4 linked regions of the Homo sapiens genome follow. The protein of the gene in region 1 interacts with the protein of each later gene in a pairwise test. Each region holds a gene or a part of one and is shown in the gene's direction. Other genes may lie near its edges. The genes, in order: NAA10, SEMA3B, KIFAP3 and MEOX2.

Region 1 (3,353 bases):
GTTGATCCCAGGTCTGGCCCATCAGGGCACCTGAGACCGGCTGAGTTGCCTTCCAGGTCGGGGGTGGGCCGGCTGTGGGGAAGAGGCTGTGGACCCCAGCACTGCCAGGATACCTCCACATTCACTCGGCGGCTGATGGTTGAAAAGCCGGCATGGAGACAGCACCTGCCTGCTGAAACGTGCTCCATGTGTTGTGATGGAGGAGCTCTGGCCCATGATGGCTGAGGCTGGCGAAGGGCACACGGGCTGTTTAGTAATGTTTGGGAATAGAGAGGTGTGGGTCCCTGGCGTGAGCAGATGCTGAGGAGCAGGACTCAAGCATGACCAAGCACCTAGAAGAATCCAAGAGAGAGCAGAATCGAGGAGAATGCACATTCAGGAAGGAAGGGCCAGTGGCCAGGCAGCCTAGTGGATGGGGGAGGTCTGCCTGAGGACCAGGAGGCCCCGTGTGCCTAGCACACTAGAGAGAACCTGGCAGTTGGCATGCCCAGTAGACAGTGGAAAAAAGTGCTTGCAAGTGAAGCTGGGGTGGGCTGCCTGTGGAGGGACACTAACTGCACTCAGCCCGTTTGGTAGGGGATGAAGAAGAGGGACTGTTGGGAAGGGCGGTGGCCTCTGGGCTGGATGCTGGCAAGAGGGATCTGTGACCCAGATGACGATGTCTGGTGGGAATTGCTTTATAGCTAAGTCAGCAATCCTCATGTCTTAGGCCTGGCAGGGCCAGCCTAGGCCATTGAGTCCAGCTCCCCTTCCAGGGACATGGCCACGCGAGTCTGCACACACACCTGCCCAGTGTAGTCACGGCCCCAGAGCTGCTCAGGCAGGGCTCACCGTCTTTCCTGGGTTCTGATGGCTGTTGTGAGGCAGCTCAGTAAGGGACAGGGCGCAGGGCAGGGAGGGAAGGGGAAGGCTGAATTCAGGGCTTCAGCTCACAAGAAACCGCAGAAATGGATCCTTAGTATCCAGGCTAAGGACACAGAACGGGGGCAGGACGGGTGGGGCGGGCCGCTGTGTCCTGGAGCCTTTGCTGGAGAGAACAGAGGGCAGGTCACACTGGACTTGTTGTCTCAGGATGGAGCCTTCAGGGAGAAAACATGGCACCTTGCTCCAGTAGCCACGATACCAGGAGTGGAGGAGGGTGTCCCCGGGATACAGGTCTTCCTCCTTGCTCTCTAACCCTCTGCCCCCAGGATCAGTGAAGTGGAGCCCAAATACTATGCAGATGGGGAGGACGCCTATGCCATGAAGCGGGACCTCACTCAGATGGCCGACGAGGTAAGCGCCTGCATGAAGCCAAGCAAGGCGAGCGGGGGCGGCACTCAGGAGCCCCAAGACAGTGGCTGCAGGCGAGACCGACTTTGGATGCCAGCTCTTGTGGCTACGTTGCCAGGAGTCACGACCTCAGTTTCCTAGGCTGGGCTTTAGAGGAGGCCATCTGCCTAGCAGCCTGGAGGGTGATGGGAGAGGCAGAGGGAGGAGGCTTTTAGAAGGGAAGTGGGGAGGTCTAGGGACCAGTGGGTGGCCTGCCTGCTCAAAGGTAGTTCTGAGTCAGGGTTCTGCCCAAGGCTCATCGGGTGGCAGGGCTGGTCAAGGGGCAGCGCTCTGTCGTGGGGGCCTCCATGGTAGTCGGTAAGCCCAGGTAGCGGTGGACTGGGGCTCCAGCCAGGTGTCCCCACTCAGTCCCGCGTGTCCTGCCTAGCCCTGCTGCCTCACTATGCCCCTCTCCTCAGCCAGCGACAGGGCCAGGCTCCCTTTGTCTGGAAACTTAGGCCCTGTCTCTTTGCCCCCGCTTCTCCCTGGGTTCCTGGTGGCAGCTGAGGCGGCACCTGGAGCTGAAAGAGAAGGGCAGGCACGTGGTGCTGGGTGCCATCGAGAACAAGGTGGAGAGCAAAGGCAATTCACCTCCGAGCTCAGGAGAGGCCTGTCGCGAGGAGAAGGGCCTGGCTGCCGAGGATAGTGGTGGGGACAGCAAGGACCTCAGCGAGGTCAGCGAGACCACAGAGAGCACAGATGTCAAGGACAGCTCAGAGGCCTCCGACTCAGCCTCCTAGAGCCTGCCCCATCCCCTCCTCACCCCACGAGCTTTCACAATAAATTCGCTCCGTGGCACTGGGGAACTTTGTGTGTGAGCGCGCGCACATTTAGAGGGTGTGTTTCTCCAGGTCCTCTGGTGGGGATGTGAGCCTTGGCCTTTTGACCCAGAGCATCCTGCCAGGCCCGAGTACAAGGAAAGAGCTTTGGAGGTGGGACTCCCTAGTCTCATGACCTTCAGCAGCTGTGGCCCCGGGGAAGGAGGCCCTGGACTTATGGGAGAGACCCTGCCTTGGAGGTCTGCTTGGCCACGCTGAATGTGTTTTGTGGCACAAGCCGGGGCTGCTCAGGCTCAAAGCTCAACAGCAGGGCTCCCACTCTTGGTGGCCTTCAGTTCTCTTCCCACCTTCACCTTCAGACTTTCTCTCCCTAATCACACCTGCTTCGGGCTACAGCAGCTCCCCAGCATACCCGTGGGCTCCAGATGTGGACATCCAACTGCTCATTGGGCTTATCTACAAATGTCCTGTCTGAGTAATGACCCAGCCAGATGCCCCATCAACAGTCCTTGAGTCCTCCCTCCCCTGCCACCCTAATGGTCAGTGAGTCCATGATACCTCTTGAGTCTACTCCCTAACCTGAGTTTGCATTTGAAAATAATTTATTTTTAGTACAATTCCCCGCGTTTCCCCATTGACATTTTGTATTAGTTGGTGTATTTGTTATTGTTGATGCGCCAATACTGATAAGTTATTGTAAACTACAGCCCATGGTTTACAGTAGGTTTCCTGTCTGTGTTGTACAGTTTCTATGGGGTTACACAAATGCATAAAGCCATGTATTCCCTCATTAACAATTTCATGCAAAATACAAAACTGGGCGGCTGTTGGGTGCGGTGGCTCATGCCTGTAATCACAGCACTTTGGGAGGCCAAGGTGGGCGGGATCACTTGAGCTCAGGAGTTGGAGACCAGCCTGGGCAGCATGGCGAAACCCCATCTTTACTAAAAATAGAAAACTTACCCGGGTGTGGTGGTGCATGCCTGTAATCCCAGCTACTCGGGAGGCTGAAGCAGGAGGATCGCTTGAGCCCGGGAGGTGGAGGTTGCTGTGGGCCCTGATCATGCCACCACACTCCAGGGACAGAGACCCGTCTCAAAAAAAAAAAATATATATATACATATATATATACATATACACATATATATCAAAATCCTGTTTTTCATGGAGTCACCCTAACCGTAACGCTCGTTTCTGTGTCTTTCCTCCTTTCCCTTCCCTCCCCTCCGGCTGCAAAGCCATCATTTACTGTCCCTAGTCCCT
Region 2 (5,940 bases), on another chromosome or scaffold:
AAAATTAGCTGGGGGCAGTGGCATGCACACACCTGTAGTCCTGGCTAGTCAGGAGGCTGAGATGGAAGGATCACTTGAGCCCAGGAGTTGGAGGCTGCAGTGAGCCATGATGCTGCCACTGCAGGACAGAGCAGACCCTGTCTCTAAATCAAATAAAAATTAAATAAGGGCTATGGGCTGGTGGGCACAGTGGCTCACACCTGTAATCTCAGCACTTTGGGAGGCGGAGGCAGGCAAATCGCTTGAGGCCAGGAGTTTGAGACTAGCCTGGCCAACATGGTGAAACCCTGTCTCTACTAAAAAATACAAAAATTGGCCGGGTGCAGTGGTGTGCACCTGTAATCCCAGCACTTTGGGAGGCTGAGGCGGGCGGATCACCTGAGTTCAGGCATTTGAGACCAGCCTGGCCAACATGGTGTAACCCCGTCTCTACTAAATATACAAAAATTAGTCCGGCATGATGGTGTGCATCTGTAATCCCAGCTACTCAGGAGGCTGAGGCAGGAGAATCGCTTGAACCTAGGAGGCGGAGGTTGCAGTGAATGGAGACTGTGCCACTGCATTCCAGCCTGGGCAATAGAGCGAGACTTCGTCTCAAAAAAAAAAAAAAAAGCCAGGTGTGGTGGTAGGCTCTGACTGTAATCTCAGCTACTTGGGAGGCTGAGGTTGCAGTGAGCCGAGATCGAGCACTCCAGCCTGGGCGACAGAGCGAGACTGTCTCAAAAAATAAATAAATAAACAAATAATAATAATAATAATAATAATAAAGAGCAATGGGACCCAGCAGAAGGATTTGAAGCAGGAGTGGGGAGCATCTGGTTATGCTAGAGAGGAAGATTCATGAGTGAAGGTGAAACCAGATTACCTCATCTCCCTCCTACCCCAGCCTAAGGTGCTGGGCGACGTGTGGGGCGAGATCGGAGGCTAGCCGGGCTTCACGCCTGCGCCCCCAGGTAGCCACGGTCTCTGCTGCCCCCTCGCGGCTGCTTCTTGCCTCGCAGGCCCTGATCCTTTGGATTCGGTCCGCGCAGAGCGCCAACTGGACATGGTGCTAGAGGTTGGGTGGTCAGACACTGTGATCCCGGGTGCTGTGCCCGCACTACGGGAAGGGGAAGCAGCGCGTGGGTCTCGCATCAGGAGGCAAGGCCAGGACCCGCTGACCCATGCCTCCTGCCGCGGTCAGAGCCCAAGTTTGTCAAGGTATTTTGGATCCCGGAGAGCGAGAACCCAGACGACGACAAAATCTACTTCTTCTTTCGTGAGACGGCGGTAGAGGCGGCGCCGGCACTGGGACGCCTGTCCGTGTCCCGCGTTGGCCAGATCTGCCGGGTGAGGAGTCCCTGGGCCACACCCGGCGACCCTGCCCCTACCCCTTTGCCTGCCCTGGTCTCGCCCTCATCCCCTTTGATCGTCCCGGCAGAACGACGTGGGCGGCCAGCGCAGCCTGGTCAACAAGTGGACGACGTTCCTGAAGGCGCGGCTGGTGTGCTCGGTGCCCGGCGTCGAGGGCGACACCCACTTCGATCAGCTCCGTGAGTGCGGGAGTGGGTATGGGGTTGGGGAGGGGGGCAGCGGCGCAGACTCCGGGAGCCCCCGCCGCAGCGGGGCTGTGCGCCCTACCCCAGCTAGGCCCCTTCCCCGCAGAGGATGTGTTTCTGTTGTCCTCGCGGGACCACCGGACCCCGCTGCTCTATGCCGTCTTCTCCACGTCCAGGTGAGGGGCAGGAGGTAGGGAGCGCCCGGGGCGGGCCGCTGGGCTCCACCCGGCCCCTCACCTCGCCCTGGTCTTCGCCTCCAGCAGCATCTTCCAGGGCTCTGCGGTGTGCGTGTACAGCATGAACGACGTGCGCCGGGCCTTCTTGGGACCCTTTGCACACAAGGAGGGGCCCATGCACCAGTGGGTGTCATACCAGGGTCGCGTCCCCTACCCGCGGCCAGGCATGGTTCGTAGCCCAGGGACTTCTGCTACAACCCACTTCAAAGCCTCAAGGGTTTGAGAACTTGGCCTGGGGTCTTCTTGGTGAATGTGGTTTCTTCCTTTAGTTATGGGTGGGAAAACGTTTCCATCATAAGACAAGGCTTGTTTCCCGCCTCTGACTTCCTAGGGCAAGGCTGATCTCCTCTCTAATTCTCAGGGCAGGGTTCTGTCCCCATCCCCCTCCATGTTCCCAGAGGCTGGGCATGGAGGGCTGCCTATCAAGCCCCCATATCTATATCCCTGCTGTGCCTCCCTTTCCCCCACCCCCAGTGCCCCAGCAAGACCTTTGGCACCTTCAGTTCCACCAAGGACTTCCCAGACGATGTCATCCAGTTTGCGCGGAACCACCCCCTCATGTACAACTCTGTCCTGCCCACTGGGGGGCGCCCTCTTTTCCTACAAGTTGGAGCCAATTACACCTTCACTCAAATTGCCGCGGACCGGGTTGCAGCCGCTGACGGACACTATGACGTCCTCTTCATTGGCACAGGTCAGGGTCCCTCCACAGCGACCCCCAGGCTCCCAGCCAGGCCCTGTGGGCTGCTGATGGAAGCTCTCCCTGTTCAGTCCCATCTCCACATCCTTTCCTGGGCTGTGTCTCCACCCTGTGGATGCTGCCCAACCCACACTCTTCCAGTCCACACTCTTCACAACCCAAACATGCTGAGGGTAGACGCCTCAAAGGCGAGGAGACACTAGCCCCAGCTGTCCGGGAGCACCAATGGTCATTACCCCTTCTCATCCCTGCAGACGTTGGCACGGTGCTGAAGGTGATCTCGGTCCCCAAGGGCAGTAGGCCCAGCGCAGAGGGGCTGCTCCTGGAGGAGCTGCACGTGTTTGAGGTGAGGCCTCACCCCCAGTCGCCCGGGACCCCCCCACCCCACTAAGCCCTGACCCCGTCGCCCCTCCTCCCTCTCAGGACTCGGCCGCTGTCACCAGCATGCAAATTTCTTCCAAGAGGGTGAGTGACCAGGATGGGGGTCGGGGTGGGATGGACTGAGCTTGTGCCTGGCGCGTCCCAAGCCTCTGGCCCCTTTTGGTAGTTTGCAGTCCCGGGTTTGAGTACAGGCTCTGGCTTTGTTAGACTGTGTGACCTGAGGCGTAAGACCTCAGTGTTCCCATCTGTCGAGTGGAAGAAGGGATCCCTGACCGATGGGAGGCAGGCGTGGGGTCGCCCTCGGTCAGCCCAGAGCCCCTCGTGCCCCCTAGCACCAGCTGTACGTAGCCTCGCGGAGCGCGGTGGCCCAGATCGCGTTGCACCGCTGCGCTGCCCACGGCCGCGTCTGCACCGAATGCTGTCTGGCGCGTGACCCCTACTGCGCCTGGGACGGGGTCGCGTGCACGCGCTTCCAGCCCAGTGCCAAGAGGTGGGCGGGGTCGGGGTTGGGCCGCCGGGAGGGAGGCGAAGGGTCTTTCACTGCCCGGGGCTGAAAGAAGGGCTCACAGAAGATCGGATGTTCCCCACAGGCGGTTCCGGCGGCAAGACGTAAGGAATGGCGACCCCAGCACGTTGTGCTCCGGAGGTGAGTGCCCCAGCTGCCCCTACCCTCAGCCCCAGAAGACGCCCCACCTGCCCTGCCTTGCCTAAATCTGACTTTCTTCTCGCCCCAAGACTCGTCTCGTCCCGCGCTGCTGGAACACAAGGTGTTCGGCGTGGAGGGCAGCAGCGCCTTTCTGGAGTGTGAGCCCCGCTCGCTGCAGGCGCGCGTGGAGTGGACTTTCCAGCGCGCAGGGGTGACAGCCCACACCCAGGTGAGCCTTACTCCGCCCTCCCCGCCAGGCTCCTGTCCCACCCCCTGCATCCAGGAGAGGCCCCGCCCTACCCAACGAAGCCCCGTCCAACCAGACCCACTCCCCGCCCTGTCCAGTTTGGTCCCTCACCTGCACTCCACAAGCTGCTGAGGCCCCATTGCGTCCAACGGGGCTCCCGACCCGCCTCCCCTGAATCAAGGAGAAGACCCGCCCTCGACCCTCCCATTAAGGTCCCTGACCACCCCCCACCAAGTTCATGTAAACCCCGCCTCTTTCGGATTCTCCCTTGAAGACCACCAGCTCCCAAACACTCAGCCTTAAAATGTGCGCCTGCGGGCACCCCTTTCCCGCTCCACCTCGGCTCCCAATGACTCTTTGCTTCTTCCGTCGCGTGCTAGGGCCCGGAAGCCCTGTTCCCGGCCCGACACCCCCGCCTCACGCTGCCCTCTGCCCGCAGGTGCTGGCAGAGGAGCGCACCGAGCGCACCGCCCGGGGACTACTGCTGCGCAGGCTGCGGCGCCGGGACTCGGGCGTGTACTTGTGCGCCGCCGTCGAGCAGGGCTTTACGCAACCGCTGCGTCGCCTGTCGCTGCACGTGTTGAGTGCTACGCAGGCCGAACGACTGGCGCGGGCCGAGGAGGCTGCGCCCGCCGCGCCGCCGGGCCCCAAACTCTGGTACCGGGACTTTCTGCAGCTGGTGGAGCCGGGCGGAGGTGGCAGCGCGAACTCCCTGCGCATGTGCCGCCCGCAGCCTGCGCTGCAGTCACTGCCCCTGGAGTCGCGGAGAAAGGGCCGTAACCGGAGGACCCACGCCCCTGAGCCTCGCGCTGAGCGGGGGCCGCGCAGCGCAACGCACTGGTGACCAGACTGTCCCCACGCCGGGAACCAAGCAGGAGACGACAGGCGAGAGAGGAGCCAGACAGACCCTGAAAAGAAGGACGGGTTGGGGCCGGGCACATTGGGGGTCACCGGCCGATGGAGACACCAACCGACAGGCCCTGGCTGAGGGCAGCTGCGCGGGCTTATTTATTAACAGGATAACCCTTGAATGTAGCAGCCCCGGGAGGGCGGCACAGGTCGGGCGCAGGATTCAGCCGGAGGGAAGGGACGGGGAAGCCGAGCTCCAGAGCAACGACCAGGGCCGAGGAGGTGCCTGGAGTGCCCACCCTGGGAGACAGACCCCACCTCCTTGGGTAGTGAGCAGTGAGCAGAAAGCTGTGAACAGGCTGGGCTGCTGGAGGTGGGGCGAGGCAGGCCGACTGTACTAAAGTAACGCAATAAACGCATTATCAGCCAAAGCTGGAATGGCCCCAGCAGAAAACCCCAGTCCTCGGCCTTGCTATGTGGTCTTGGGCACCTTACTAGCGGTGTCAGGGCCCGAGTTTCTCCTGTCCAAGGTTGCCTGGTGAGGATTAAAGGTGGTTCCGGCCAGGCGCGGTGGCTCACGCCTGTAATCCCAACACTTTCGGAGGCCCAGGCGGACGGATCACGAGGTCAGGAGATGGAAACCATCCCGGCTAACACGGTGAAACCCCGTCTGTACTAAAAATACAAAAAATTAGTCGGGCGTGGTGGCGGGCGCCTGTAATCCTAGCTACTCAGGAGGCTGAGGCAGGAGAATTGCTTGAACCTGGGAGGTGGAGGTTGCAATGAGCCTAGATCTCGCCGCTGCACTCCAGCCTGGGCGACAGAGCGAGACTCCAAAAAAAAAAAAAAAAAAAAAAAAAAAGGTGGTTCCGCGTGACTGAACAGGTTCTGTAGGGCCTTTGGGAATAGTGACACGCAGGGTACATTGTGCATAATATAACTTCAGGACTAAGTGCTAGGAAGAAAATAAAACTGGACCGGGCGCAGTGGCTCACGCCTGTAATCCCAGCATTTTGGGAGGCCGAAGCAGTCGGATCATGAAGTCAGGAGTTCAAGACCAGCCTGACCAACATGGTGAAACCCTGTCTCTACTAAAAATACAAAACTTAGGTGGGTGTGATGGCACGCGCCTTTAATCCCAGCTACTCAGGAGGCTGAGGTAAGATAATTGCTTGAACCAGGGAGGCAGAGGTTGCAGTGAGCCGAGATCGCCCCACTGCACTCCAGCCTGGGCAACAGAGCGAGACTCTGTCTCAAAGAAAAGAAAACTGGGTGATGTGGAAAAGAATGTACACAGAAGGCCTCACTGAAGGGGTGGCATTTGAGTTCGCTGACAAGACGGG
Region 3 (7,040 bases), on another chromosome or scaffold:
GTTCTGTATAGGCTAGTATTTAAAGAAATACTATTTTATCTGGATTATAATGGTCAAATACCTTTGGGAATTACTAGATTGAACAAAGCTACACCAGATTATTTATTAAATAGGACTTTTTGGAGGCTTTGCTGTTAATATGCATTGTCAACCTATTTATGTGACTCCAAAATAATTTTTTTCAAAGCATGTACTATTCAAGTTCTCTGCATTGTGAATGTGAATAATACTGTGAAATGCTATCATAGGATGATTTTTAATTTGCTAAAAAATTTGTCACTACGTGGATTCATAACTAATACAATCAATTTTTGTTCATAGTCTGAATAGCCAGAAAGCTCAAATATGGGACATTTTCATTACCATAATAAATACTCATAATGCAGTCCATAAAGTACTATTGTAAATCCTGAGTATCTATTAAGAACAGTGGAATTATGATTTCTATATTTTAACATACAGATATTTTAATTATTTTAAGAATTAGTATGCCATGTACCAACCTGATTTGAAACTAGTGTCATTACTTTATAATTTTCATTTCCTCAAGAGAAAATTTTAGCAGAAATGCTTATTAACCTACCTGAAAGTTAATTTTGTGAAAGCTTTTTGTTTTATTTGTGGCTACTAGCATAAATTCAGTGTGATACTGAAATATTAAATTTATTTTTCTGTGTATAGATTTTATTTGGTTTTTAATTTGCTTTAATGGAACGAGTGTTAGTCTACTAACCTGCTCATTTTTTTCTAGACTTATTCAAGTTTTTTTCATATTATCAAATACATTAAATCAGATGTTAAAAAGAAAAAAATCAGTACTGAAGTAGGAAGATTACAGTTCTTAATTTAAGGTTATTAAATTAAGAAATGAAAGGCTTTTTAATTATTTTATTGTCACCATAACATATGTCACTTTATCTAAATCATATTTGATTACTTCTGTGTATAGTATATACTTGAAGCAGCATGTTACGTATCTTTAAGTAAAATTACATTTTAGTTTTAAAAGTAGCTGTCTGTATTGGAAAGAAGCATCCTACTTTTTGTCCCAGTTCTATCTTAGCTTTATTATTCATTAATAACTAGACATTTAAAACCAATCACCCTTTATACCAGAGCAAGGAGAATGATCGTTTCGGTACCTCTCCTTTTTCTTTAGAAACTGCCCTTGGTGCATTAGCAAGGGTCCTGAGAGAAGACTGGAAGCAAAGTGTCGAGTTAGCTACAAACATAATTTACATCTTTTTTTGTTTCTCCAGGTAAGTATAAAAATTATTAAATAAAAAGGCTACTGTATCTCTATTGCTCTTTGTCTGTGTCATTGATTCAATTTGTAGATCACTTGTTCTCTCAGTTTTTCTGTGTGTCTGCCTATGCTCTACTGCTGAATTCTTATTCCTGTTTTCCATTGTCTGTCTTGCTATCTGTTATTCTATCTTTCATTTAGTCTATACCCACTCATGCCTCAGTTTCCTTATGAGTAAAATTTGGATAGTAATAGTGGCACCCTCTTTGGATAGTTTTTTGGATTAAATGAATTAAAAATTAAAATACTTAGAATAAAGCCTGACCCAGAGTAAGTGCTCAGTAAATGTTATTGTTATATATATGCATGTATGTACAAACACATACCTGTTATGTATTGTATTTATTATTTATACACATATATCCTTAAGAAAGAAGATACTTATTAAGACATTATGAAAAGTTTCTACCCAATTCCTAGATAATTGCTGCTTCTGTTCTAAAAATGTGCTAGTATTAGCAAATAAATATTTATTGAATAAATACTTGGATTAATGTATTGTCTAGAAAACATATGTAAAACCTGATTACTAGTACTTTACGAATTCTCTGATGTCAGTTTTATACAATAAATAAAATGTATGTCTAGTATTGCTACATTATTAGTTTTGTTAGACAATAATCTAAAAATCTATTCTGAATATCTGAGTAGTTAATATGGTGGTTAGTTACAAAAAATGTCTACTTTCTAACTTCTTAAAAATAACTATTTTAGGTAAGAGTAGTGTGATATATTTAAAGTAATTTTATAATCGCAAGTCTTCCTAGTGTATTGTGGATATATTCATTTATTAAAATATGTATATCAAATTTATTTTCTACATGGTTCGTACCAGTGATCACCAAAAACAAATTTCCTGTACCCATAAAATGTATTCTTTTAAATATATATTAAAATGTCTTCTTTAAAGCTTTTCTCAATTTCATGGACTTATTACTCACTATAAAATTGGAGCTCTGTGTATGAATATTATTGATCATGAGTTAAAAAGACATGAGCTTTGGCAAGAAGAACTCTCAAAGAAGAAGAAAGCTGATATCCTTTTAGAGTGGCATTTGAACCGTCTGTTGTCTTTTGCTTTAAGTTTTGGATGGGTGGGATGGTTTTGTTCTTTTTTCTTTTTTAAAAATTGTTAATTACATTACTTGGAAACAATGCAGGAGTGTGTTATTGAAGGTTAAGAAGTAGATTGAAACTATCAAAATGAATACAGTTTGATATTCACTTTTTGTCTCTTCACAACCTTTATTAGTTAATGAGGTAGAAGGAGCAGGTAATAGTTGTGTCGGGTAACTTAGTAGGTGAGCCTCTAAGTGGTTACATCATTACATCCACTAAGATCCTTTGGTTAGTTGAAGCCTGGCCCACCACTGCTGCTTATATACTTCTGTGTGAGTACTAAGGTGACTTTGATTAGAATGGGTGTAAATTTGGTGATGAACCTAGTTAAAGGTTCTATTTTTCTAGGAAAGTGCAAAAATACTGTTGTTAATAAATAAAAATTTGAAAGGCCTATAGAATAATAGAACCTGTGAAAGGAAACTTAGGTATCTGTTTTAACCTATCTTACAAATATAAAAATATTTCTGCAACTTCCCTGGCAAATGCTATTACATAGGCTCCTCTTTAACAATGTCAGTGTTTATTTATTTCACCCATTCTGTGGTTTAGCATTCTGTTTATTATAATAGTCTTTTGCTTAGTGCACTGAAGTCCATTCCCCAATAACTTCTATCCATTGGTTCTAGTATTGTATACTAAAGCAATATGGAATAAGGCTATTCTCTTCAACATCATAATTCTTCTCATATTTGAAGATATTTATCATATTTTAGCCTCTAAACTCAATGCTTCTAGATCAAAGGCCCCTGGTTTATTCATATCTGTTCAACCATGATATGTTTTGCAGATCAACTAGGCATGCTGGTAACTTTCCTTTGAATCAAGTGTTTATTATGTCTTTTAAAAAGTGAAAACTTTATTCCTATTTTGCAGAATATCATACATTTTTAACTCTGCTTTGTGCAAAAGTGGACCTTACTTTTATATTAATTTTGGCCTCTGGAAACCCTGAGGCTTCAATTTAATCTATGTTGTAACAGGTTAATTCAGGTTATTGTGTACAAAATCTCTCAGGCTTTTACTGTTGTCACATGGAACTCCAAGACACTATAAAATCCACACCCACACACAAGCTTTGACTTTTCTTAATTAGAATCTTTTCAGGTTTATAAATTTTCTATGCATACCATAAACTTCTGGCATCTAGATTGATAGTGACTCAACTACATCAACAACCCAAGAATCCTAGAGACTTTACATCAGTTCTGGAGTCACAAGACTCCTGAATGCTTCAGTGGTACCCAAAATTTATTTAAACTGGAGAAGTATGGAGGGAACCACTAGTGGAACTCTTTAGCAATCATGAATTTGCATTTTGTTATTGTTTGGTGACAAGAACTGATATCTTAGGACATATTGTATTTCTGTATCAGACACCATTAATTTTAAGATTCACTATTGTTTAAGTGCGAGGAGAGGAACATATGCTTTCAATTAAACTATGACACATCAGGGATTATAAGACACATCCAGTTTTGGAGATGTTAAGATGTGAGGAAAATGTATCTTAGACTCAACAGATTATGGTAATTGAAGGGATATAAAAATGACATCAGAATTCTGGTCATTTCTCCTGACATGTTGCTATTTTATTATGTCCTAAATTTCTTTGTATTTTGATACAAGTGGTATTCAACAAGGTCAGCTGCATTGACTCATATTCTGGGGTCATATGCTTGACTCATATGCTTGGGGATACTGAAGTAACTGATTATTTTTGCAAGAAGTCCAGAGGACGATTTGGGACCAGAAGATGTGATTTTTAAAATTTGTTTACCTTTAAGTTTGGGTTAGTTCTTTCTTGGCATCTCTAGTCTGAAAAGGCTGCTACAAAAGCTTTAGATTTAATCTATATCCTTTGAATATTCTGGGCATCTGTCTGAAGTAAAATCCAGTGTTCTTAGTAACTAAATCACTTTCTGAGGCAGTAATTTTTTTGGTTCGTGGACCCACTTGATAATCTGTTGAAAGTTATAGACTTGTGCACCTATATAAAATATTCACATATAGTTTCTGGGAATTCAAGTATTTGGTGAGGTTCAAATATCTATATGATGTTAGCTGTGGGCTACATAAAAAAGTTTGTTCACCCAAAGACTCCCAGGGAATCCATGAGCACTTAAATAAGAAGTGCTGTTACAGCACAGTTATTATGCAGATAACATTTTAGTTAAACTTTTGGTGAGAAAAATAACTGGATAAAGTTGCACATAAAATTTAATAGTGCCATTGTTCATAGAATTTATCAGTAGATTTTTTTTGCTTCAATGAGTATGGATGATCCTTAACAAGTTGTTTACTTGATGAAGACCCTGAAAACCAAACCTTGAGAAAGGATTATGAAAAAACCTTTAAAAAGTACCAGGGGCTTGTGGTAAAACAGGAACAGCTATTACGAGGTATGAATTCCTAAGCAATGAGGAAAGCAACAAAGTACTTACTCCAAATACATTTGTTTTGTTCACTTTTTATCATACCTGTAAAGCTAATGTGAGAATAGCTGAAAGTTCTATAAATGTTAATATGCTACAAGTTCGTCTGTCTTTAGCATGGGTAATGTTTTAAATTTCACTCTACTATTTTTCCCCATTTAGTTCCTAAATGTTTGTATACTTATTATTTATTTCCTAAGAAAGGATTTTTTAATCCAGTGTGTGACCTTTTCAATAATATCAATCTTTGTCTCTTCAGCCCTAACTTACTTGTTTTATAAAGTGAATTATTTTGTTGCTTTCCTAGGAAATTGATATAAACATTTTAAAATATTTCTCTTGTTTAATAGAAAAGAATTCCTTGTCTCTAGCTTTATTAAGATATTTAAAACTTCAATAGTATGGTTTCTTGGTTACTGATAAGATGTAAAATCTTATGGTGGTTAGTGATAATGACATGGGGCTTTTAAGTGTGAATTTAAGTCCGGATTTATACTTGACTATTTGATGATTCATGTAGTTTATTGGTGTTTGACTAACTTTGTACATGGAAATACTTGTTAACTCCCAAAATATTTTCATCCTGTGAAGATTAGTAGCAATTTTAACTACACTGAGTTTTTTAAATATTTGAAGCCAAGTAATTTAGTTCAACCTGTTGGAGAAAATGTCAGATTTTCAAAGGTTCATTTTAAAATATGCTAGAAAATAATAGGTATTATCTGTGTTAGCATATAATCCAAAATGCATCAGATCTCAAGAAAGCAATTGTTTTCATGTAAAAGTTTCAAAGAACTAATTTGACTTTTTTAACATGCAAAACTTTAAGCTCTGTTTCTAACCAAATATTTATGCAAATATTGTATACTCTCTTAACAGCTTTATTGAGGTATAACTGATAGACAATAAACTGTATAGTTTTAAAGTATATAATTTGATAAATTTTAACATATGTAAATACCCATGAAATAATGACCATAATCAAGATAAGGTACATATCCATCACTCCCAAAATTTCCTCATGCATCTTTACAATCTCTCCCTTTCCTTCTTCCTTCTGCCTTCTTCCTCATTCCCAAGTCATCACTGATCTGCTTTCTGTCACTTTAGCTTAGTTTGCATTTTCTAGAGTTTTATATAAATGAAATCATATAGTATGTATGCATTTTTGTCTTTTACTCAGCATAATTAAAGATTCATCCATATTATTGCATTTATCAATAGTTTATTCCTTTTTGTTATTGAATAGTATTTCCTTATATTCACCTGTTGATGATCATTAGAATATTTCCAGTTTTTGGCAATTTTAATGCTGCTGTGAACATTTTTCTACAAGTCTTTGTATGGACATACGCTTTCTTTTCTCTTAGTTAAATACCTAATGATGGAATGGCTGAGTCATAGGATAGGTGTATGTTTAACTTTGTAAGAAACTGCCAAATGTTTTTCTATAATAGTTGTTTTTATATTCTCACCATGAATGTATGTGGTTTTGATTTGAATTTCCCTAGTGACTGATTAATGTTGAGCATCTCCTGATGTGCTTATCTGCCATCTCTTTATGTTTATTGAAGTGTGCCTTCATAACTTTTGCCTTATTATTAAATTGGATAGTTTTGTATCCATTCTTTATATGTTTTGGATATAAGCATTTATCAGATACATGATTTGCAGAAATTTTTGTTCTCCTAAAGTATCTTTTTAAGAGCAGAATTTTACATTTTTATGAATTCCAACTTAGTGTTTTTTGGATCATGGTTTTGGTATTGTGTCTAAGAAATCCTTTCCTAACTAAAGGTTACAATTATTTTCTAATATGTTTTCTTCTAGAAGTTGTATAGTCTCAGAGTTTAGTTAAGGCTATAATATATTTTGAGTTAATTTTTGTATATGGGGTGAGGAATGGATCAAAGTTCTTCATTCTTTTTGCATATAAATAGCTAATTATTTAAGTACTACTTTTGAAAACACTATCTTTTATCTACTGAATTGATTTATATCTTTGTCAGAACCATTTGTCCAATGTGTCATGCCTATTTTTGGGTTTCTATTTTGTTCTATCCATCACTTTTGTGTGTTTTTGATGCCAATAGCACAGTGTCTTCATTACCATAGCTTATGGAAAATGTTGATATTGGGTGCTTTTAGCCCTACCAATTTTTTATTCCATTGATTTCTAC
Region 4 (7,026 bases), on another chromosome or scaffold:
TTTAGAAGTAAGGTTTTAAGTATTCATTTCTTTTGGTACATGTAAAATGAATGTAACAATTTTTACTGTGAATGTACCAATTAATGTTATATAAAAATAATAACATTTTAAAAATGTGTAAAAGTATACAGAATCACTAAATAACATGCATTAGCCATAGCAAAATTGTTCCATAAACTTTATAATGCATAGTTCCTGGGGAGAATCAGTTCCTTAGTTTTATAAAATAATGTACATCATAAATCACATAAATTACCATTGGGTATTTAGCATATTTGGATACATTTTCAAAATTCTTTATTTCAGAAGAACCAACTGAAGGACATAACTGCTACTTTTTGGCAAAATATAGCAGAAATAATATTTCTATACCCAATAAAGTTTTCAGAAACAAATTACAACATTAATTTAATTATCCACCCTTTAGTTCATATATTATGAGTATATGTTACCAAGGAAAATTTATCTATTAGGTAAAATTCAAAGTAGAGTTTCCTATTTAATTTTAAATATTTGAAGTTCCATGACAACTCATGTCACACGTGTGCAGAAGAATGGCAACTTTTAAAAGAATCGTTGTGAATCTTAAAGTAAAATTTAAATACAATTTTGTTGTATTGCTTAATATGAGCTCTAGTCCCCTTAAAATAAAATAGTCCTAATAAAAAGAAATCTCTGCCTTTACTCTTGAATGTCATTTTATTTAAGCCGAGGAAACAATAGATATACACACTTATCAAGTTTAAAGAACCTAGCCTACGTTTAAAATAATTATAGCTGTGGACCCTGCAAGAGCTAAGTAGCTTACCTTTTCACAGAATCAACCTCTTTATAATGTGTTACTTGATATTGAAACCTTACATGAAATGTTGGCATTAATATAACTTATCTTCAGGAAAACTCAAGTATATTATAAATGTAGGATAAATACTATATCATACATAGTTGTAAATGATTGTTATATAGAAATTTTATAATAAATTTTATAATTTTTACCATTCTTCTTGATATCATTAGGTAAAAAGGCATCTTTTCAATATTGGATTTTATGGATGTGAACACTGAAGTAGCTATTATAGGAAATGCTAGGGATTTTTTTCCCGTTGTTACTACATTTTAAAAATTTCTCTATAACCTAGAACATAAAATTCAATATTCTATCTTATTCCAAATATTCTAATAAAATTTAAAAATCTTTATGTAATGATTAATACATATTTAGAAATCCAGAGAAAATTAAAGTTATATTTAATTCTGGAATTCACCAAGACGTCCTTTTTAGTCCTTCATTTTTTCCTTCCAAATATTTTCCTTATATTCTGTTTTCTATAAGAAAACTGGACATCATAATTTTTGCTGATATTAAATGTTCTGTGTCTTCAATTAAAAAGACCTTTCTTGCTAGCTTTGTTTTCATTGCATGCCTTTGGAATGACTTCCTCCTTTTCTAACCTTTCTTAAATTTTTCTTCCCAGGTTTCTGGCCCCACAGTTCTAGAGGCTGACTGACTGGGGCAGGTTGTAGAGAAACTTCTGGACAGGTTGTTAACATCTGACACAGTGAGTGAGAAAAAATCCAGCACAGTCACTGGGCAGGTTTAAGAAGAAGTGGCAGCCTCGGGAGATGAAAGGTTTGTGTGTGCTTGTTGCTGGTTACCTGCAACACACTGGTTAAATTCAAATCCATTCATTTAGTAATTGCTTAGCTTCCTCTAAACCAATGTAATGCAAACCAAAAGGACCGTTGTGGATGTTTTGTACTGATGTCTGCAGATCATGAGTAATTTTAGTCTGTCTTGTCTGACATTTTCCACAATGCTTTTAGTTGACAGCATTATATTATGTAAATATTTCTGGTTAGGTTTATTGAGGTGGTTGCCTAAATCTCACTTTAAATAAAGCCTTTAATGCTTTCACCCAGAATCCATAGAGAAGCTACATGAGTTGGGGAAGTTTAGTGTTGCTCTTTGTACTTTAACTTTTAATATCAGAGCACATATTGAAACCATAAACACAATGAAAATACAAAAAAATATTCCGACGATATTGGAGGACTATAACTCCCCCACCTCTTTTTATTCTTAAAGAGCCAAGGGCGTGGGGAGTGGCAGGAAGAGATATTCTCAAGATCTAAGTCCTGGACGCCATCCTGCGAGTGCTTAAAGCCCCTAGAAACGTGCAACCTGAACAACACCCCTTTTCGAAGTCTAAAACAATATTAGATTCCCAAAATATCGGCAAAGAAAGTCTTACCGTCAGACTTGCAGCAGGTTTCAGCTCAGACCCAGACTGAAAAGCTGAGCAGCTGGTGAACAAAAGATTTAGTTTTTTTTTTTTTTTAAACGAAGTCTGCAAAACTAATTTCCCTCAAAATAGAGCTCAATTTCCGTTAAAGAAAGCAGCGCTTACAAATCTCAGAATTCCTGATCAACCCCCACTCCACCCCACCTCTGAGCAATAGAAAACAATTCGATCTTTCACACGGATGTTATTGCGAAGCCACTATTCTGCAGTGTGACTTAAAAGAAAAGAAGATAGTGAGGCTTAAGCAAGGGGACTGGAAGAGGAGGGGAAAGGTTCTGCTTTGGGGACACCTCTCAAAGATTAATCAATGCTTTTTCCTAATTCAAACCAGATGTCTAGCCCAGTTTGCTGTACCCATTAATCCCACTAACAACTTCAAAGACCTGGTCATCATCCTCTGGACACCTGAGACAATGAAAAAACGGGGCGACACTGCTGGTGGCGCATTTGGGGCCCCGGGCAGAATAGGTGACTACAGATATTCTCCTGATGCGACAGGTCGCAGATGGGACATGACTGTTCCTCCTGCTCATTACAGCGCCACTCACTTGTGTGTAAACGACTCTGCCCCCAGCGGACCCTGTCGCCCGCCAAGCAAGTAGCAGCTTCAAAGCCCTGCCCTCGCTCTCGCATGCTTACTAGAGGCGAGTTTTCTATTTTATTTTCAGGGGTGCAAAATTGTAACCAAGTGCCCACGGTGAGTGAATTTTGGGAGCTATCGAAATGTAAGAATTCTCAGTAAATGGAACCCTGGTGGTAAGGAATGCATTAGCGGATTTATTTTTGAGCAGAAGAGAGTGGATTTCTGGAGGAAACCGAGGAGATCTGGGCTAGCTCCTGAGGGGAAAGGCTAGAAATGCGCGTGCAATCTACACATCTCATATGACCGGGACACAATCGCTTGGAAATATTCTTGACCCAGGAAAAGTTCTTCTTGGTGGACAAGTGGCTAGGAAATTGAGCGGGACCGGGAAAGAGGGGGAAGGGAGCCTCCACCTGGCATCGCACGTGAGGATGCCAGGGAGCAGGCATCTGCAACCCTTTCAGACTCACGCCTTCCTCCCACCCACCCAACCAGGTCCGTCTTCTTTCTGCACTGAGAACCGCCTTTTCCAGGCCATGGTGCTCATCCCCGCAACCTCAGATCTGGCGTCCCAGCCTATTAACAACCCACCGACAGAAACCAGCTGCGAAAACCTAGGCGCGCTGCGGCGCCCGGGGCACGGGAAGATGCAAAGTTTGAAAAACTTCGAGGGTGCGCCAAACTAGCTCTGGTCTTTTCCTTTAACCCTATTACTTCTTTCGTGTTCCTGAAAGGATAGGCGTATCCCTAGCTTTTCTGCAGGTGACAGTTCCCAAATGACACTGACAAGTCACGTTTCCCCGAGAGGAAAGTGAGTAGGTAGGAATCAGGGTGCTAGGTTGGGGGTGGTGTGCGCCGCGCCCAGGCCTCCAGAGTCTGGAGGGCAGAGCTGCTGCCCTCCCGGGCGGGACTTAGACGTTGGCGTGCCGCTTGTAGTCCTGGCAGCCGGCAGTGCTGGGCGGGCGTGGACGCTCTACGTCCGTCCAGCAGGAGATAGGAAGTGGAACTGGGAGCGCGTGGCGCAGGCTGAGCGGGAGTTTTGGAGGGAGTTTGCATGTGGTCAACTCTGGGCTCCTAAGCCAGCCCCCAGCTCACGTTACACTCTATTTATAACTTCTCAGAGCCATTTCCCCCTGAAAGCAGTTCTCTGGGACCACCTTCTTTTGGCTTCAACCTCTCCCACTCTTGACATCTGAGTAGCTCAGGGAAGCTCTTCCAGGTCCGACTGTTCATATGTAAAGGAGACTGGCCGCTGGGGCTCAGGACCGGGATTATCCGAGCTCTGCAGAAGTGCACCGCTATTGCTTTGGGAGGTTAAAAAAAAAATCACACGGTTTCCAGTGAAAAAGTGACAGAGGGTGGTGGCCTTTGGAACCGCCGTGAAGTCTTCTGCCTGGAACCCGAAACTTGCATGCTATGGAACACCCGCTCTTTGGCTGCCTGCGCAGCCCTCACGCCACGGCGCAAGGCTTGCACCCGTTCTCCCAATCCTCTCTCGCCCTCCATGGAAGATCTGACCATATGTCTTACCCCGAGCTCTCTACTTCTTCCTCATCTTGCATAATCGCGGGATACCCCAACGAAGAGGGCATGTTTGCCAGCCAGCATCACAGGGGGCACCACCACCACCACCACCACCACCACCATCACCACCATCAGCAGCAGCAGCACCAGGCTCTGCAAACCAACTGGCACCTCCCGCAGATGTCTTCCCCACCGAGTGCGGCTCGGCACAGCCTCTGCCTCCAGCCCGACTCTGGAGGGCCCCCAGAGTTGGGGAGCAGCCCGCCCGTCCTGTGCTCCAACTCTTCCAGCTTGGGCTCCAGCACCCCGACTGGGGCCGCGTGCGCGCCGGGGGACTACGGCCGCCAGGCACTGTCACCTGCGGAGGCGGAGAAGCGAAGCGGCGGCAAGAGGAAAAGCGACAGCTCAGGTAAGGGCGCGCCAGGCACCCTCGAGAGTGCGCGCCGGGCTGGAAAAGGGGCGGAGAGATACTAGGGGAGATTCTCGCACTGGAGGGTGGCAGCAGGGAAGATGGGAATGTGTTGCCCTCTGTGGCTTCCTGCGGCCAAATTCGGCGGTGAAGCTTTGGTCCTGATATTTGGGGACACGTGTTTATTCGAGAGCAATGCGTATACAGCCAGCAGCTCTAAGCCCTCCAAAGTCCTAAACTAGTTTACCAGAAGGTTGATAAAAAAGGACAAGTGGCTGTGAAATCGATTGTGAAGCGTGACCTTCCATCCCAGCGCTGGGGAGGGAGGGGCGTGCGCCCAGGGATGCAGCGTCCGTTGGGCAGGCGTGCGTGCGGGTGCCGCTTCTTGACTTTTCTCTTGCAAGTTGCCGACTCTGAGTGGCTCGATTTTTCCCATCGTTAACTGGATTTCCAAATTATTGCACAATGTTTGGAACTTGCAATGGAACTTGGCAGAGCGCATGAGAAAAAAAAGTTTCAGTTTTTTTTTTTTAACATTCTTATTTCAGCGTTCTTTAAATAGCACCCTATTTCAAATGGTAAAATTTTCCCTTTATTGGGGAAGAAGACATTATCTAGGAATTCAGATTTTAAGGAATGTGTCAGAGAATTGTAAATAAATAGATGCTCACACTGGAAGAAAGACGAACCTTAATAGTACATGTCCATGTGGTGTAAGCTAATTACAGAACCTAAGTTTCAAAAGTGGAAAATAAATCCCTCTACCAAGTGGGTATTAGTAGAGACAAATACTGCGAAGCAACAGCAACTCGGGTACTGTTAGTTAGATACGTGTCTAAAGGGGTATGCAAGGGTGCGCGCAGGAGGCGCTGATTTCAGTGGGGATAATTTGAGCAGCCATGCAAAAGGGGAACCTTCCTGACCTCTGGTGCTTGAAGGCACAACGTGCCGAATAAATTGTAGCAATCCAGAGAAACTCAAAGTTTCCAGACAAGTTTTCAAAGCTCTTACCTACCTGTATTTTTATAAAATTGTTAAAAGATACTTTAAAATTAAGAGACTTGTGAGTTTTCTTTCGTGGGTATAGTGCAACCTGGATTAAATACTTTTGGAAGGTGTCATTTGTTTAATATAATATTTGCATATTTTTCTTCCTCTGTGGAATTGGGTTAATAATAGTCCTAGAAGGTAATCCCATATGTTGGTTTGAAGGATTGGAAAAATGTTGATCGTGTGTAAAGCTTTAGGTAAGATGCCACATAAATGAAAATGATTGGCCGCATATTTAATATTCCTTCACCATTCACAGCAATATCAATTGTTCTTCAGCGTTACTATAGGATGGATTCTTCTCTCACGGTCTCAAAAGCTAACTTTTATTTTCCAAGGTCAGGGGGTGAACTTTTAATGTTCCATCACAAATTAGTTTTTATAAGAAAATTACCAGTAGTGTCACTGATATTTAATGTATTTTCCTAACTATAAGTGAAACTCTCTTTAGATAGTGAGTTGAAAGGTTAATCATAGCAAAAAGGTTTCAATTTTTATTAGAAAAACAGTCGATTTTAGAATGCAGTGACAATTTCATAAACTGAACATTTGATATCAGTGTAACTTTGGAAGCAGATCCCAGTTCGGGTTGATGAGCGTACTCTTGCAATTCCCATAAGCTCTTACGGTTCATTTTATTTCTTGCAATGAGAAACCTACATGATAGATTGTTCTTCATGCTTCCTGAACTGAGCCATTGCCCTTAAGTTTCTCAGGGCAAACAATTTTCATACAAGCACATGTTATTTTGTTTGGGGAAAACTGAGAAAACGGAATTCAATAACTGATTCCCTTAATTTATTTTAATAATTTTTTTAAAAAATGGAATAATTTAACAAAACTAATTTATCTCTCCCCCCCAACTTAGTGGGAAATAACCATTTAACAAAATTAAATTCATTTCTACATTTTGAAGCTGATAATGAGGGTACTGGAAAAACAAGCAAATATAAGTGTTTGTGTCAGCTACATAAATTATTAACAGATTAAAACTTCAGTGGAAAGTACAATTAGTCATCACCAAGGATAAAAATACTGGGGATTTAGAATGAGCTTTTCTTTCCTTTGATATGTTGAAGAAATATTGACTAAAAGGAAAATCACAATAGTTTCTGTTTAAATCTATGTACACTTATTGAAAATAAAATTTTATTTGC

The links.
Region 2: the proteins of NAA10 (region 1) and SEMA3B interact in binary tests that used the Homo sapiens proteins (3 or more experiments, as listed by UniProt).
Region 3: the proteins of NAA10 (region 1) and KIFAP3 interact in binary tests that used the Homo sapiens proteins (3 or more experiments, as listed by UniProt).
Region 4: the proteins of NAA10 (region 1) and MEOX2 interact in binary tests that used the Homo sapiens proteins (3 or more experiments, as listed by UniProt).

The regions. Positions count from the first base shown.
Region 1 is NC_000023.11:153,928,685-153,932,037, reverse strand, and holds the end of NAA10 (N-alpha-acetyltransferase 10), read left to right. Parts: intron 1-1,190; coding exon 1,191-1,275; intron 1,276-1,814; coding exon 1,815-2,051; 3' UTR 2,052-2,813; downstream 2,814-3,353. UniProt on the Homo sapiens protein: Catalytic subunit of N-terminal acetyltransferase complexes which display alpha (N-terminal) acetyltransferase activity. Acetylates amino termini that are devoid of initiator methionine.
Region 2 is NC_000003.12:50,272,115-50,278,054, forward strand, and holds the end of SEMA3B (semaphorin-3B isoform 1 precursor), read left to right. Parts: intron 1-1,004; exon of another isoform or gene 1,005-1,183; coding exon 1,184-1,329; intron 1,330-1,420; coding exon 1,421-1,532; intron 1,533-1,629; coding exon of another isoform or gene 1,630-1,644; coding exon 1,645-1,714; intron 1,715-1,798; coding exon 1,799-1,943; intron 1,944-2,248; coding exon 2,249-2,468; intron 2,469-2,728; coding exon 2,729-2,820; intron 2,821-2,897; coding exon 2,898-2,939; intron 2,940-3,187; coding exon 3,188-3,345; intron 3,346-3,445; coding exon 3,446-3,501; intron 3,502-3,590; coding exon 3,591-3,730; intron 3,731-4,187; coding exon 4,188-4,592; 3' UTR 4,593-5,432; downstream 5,433-5,940. UniProt on the Homo sapiens protein: Inhibits axonal extension by providing local signals to specify territories inaccessible for growing axons.
Region 3 is NC_000001.11:170,029,673-170,036,712, reverse strand, and holds part of KIFAP3 (kinesin-associated protein 3), read left to right. Parts: intron 1-1,159; coding exon 1,160-1,259; intron 1,260-2,216; coding exon 2,217-2,341; intron 2,342-4,728; coding exon 4,729-4,827; intron 4,828-7,040. UniProt on the Homo sapiens protein: Involved in tethering the chromosomes to the spindle pole and in chromosome movement. Binds to the tail domain of the KIF3A/KIF3B heterodimer to form a heterotrimeric KIF3 complex and may regulate the membrane binding of this complex.
Region 4 is NC_000007.14:15,683,679-15,690,704, reverse strand, and holds the start of MEOX2 (homeobox protein MOX-2), read left to right. Parts: upstream 1-4,021; 5' UTR 4,022-4,302; coding exon 4,303-4,819; intron 4,820-7,026. UniProt on the Homo sapiens protein: Mesodermal transcription factor that plays a key role in somitogenesis and somitogenesis and limb muscle differentiation. Required during limb development for normal appendicular muscle formation and for the normal regulation of myogenic genes.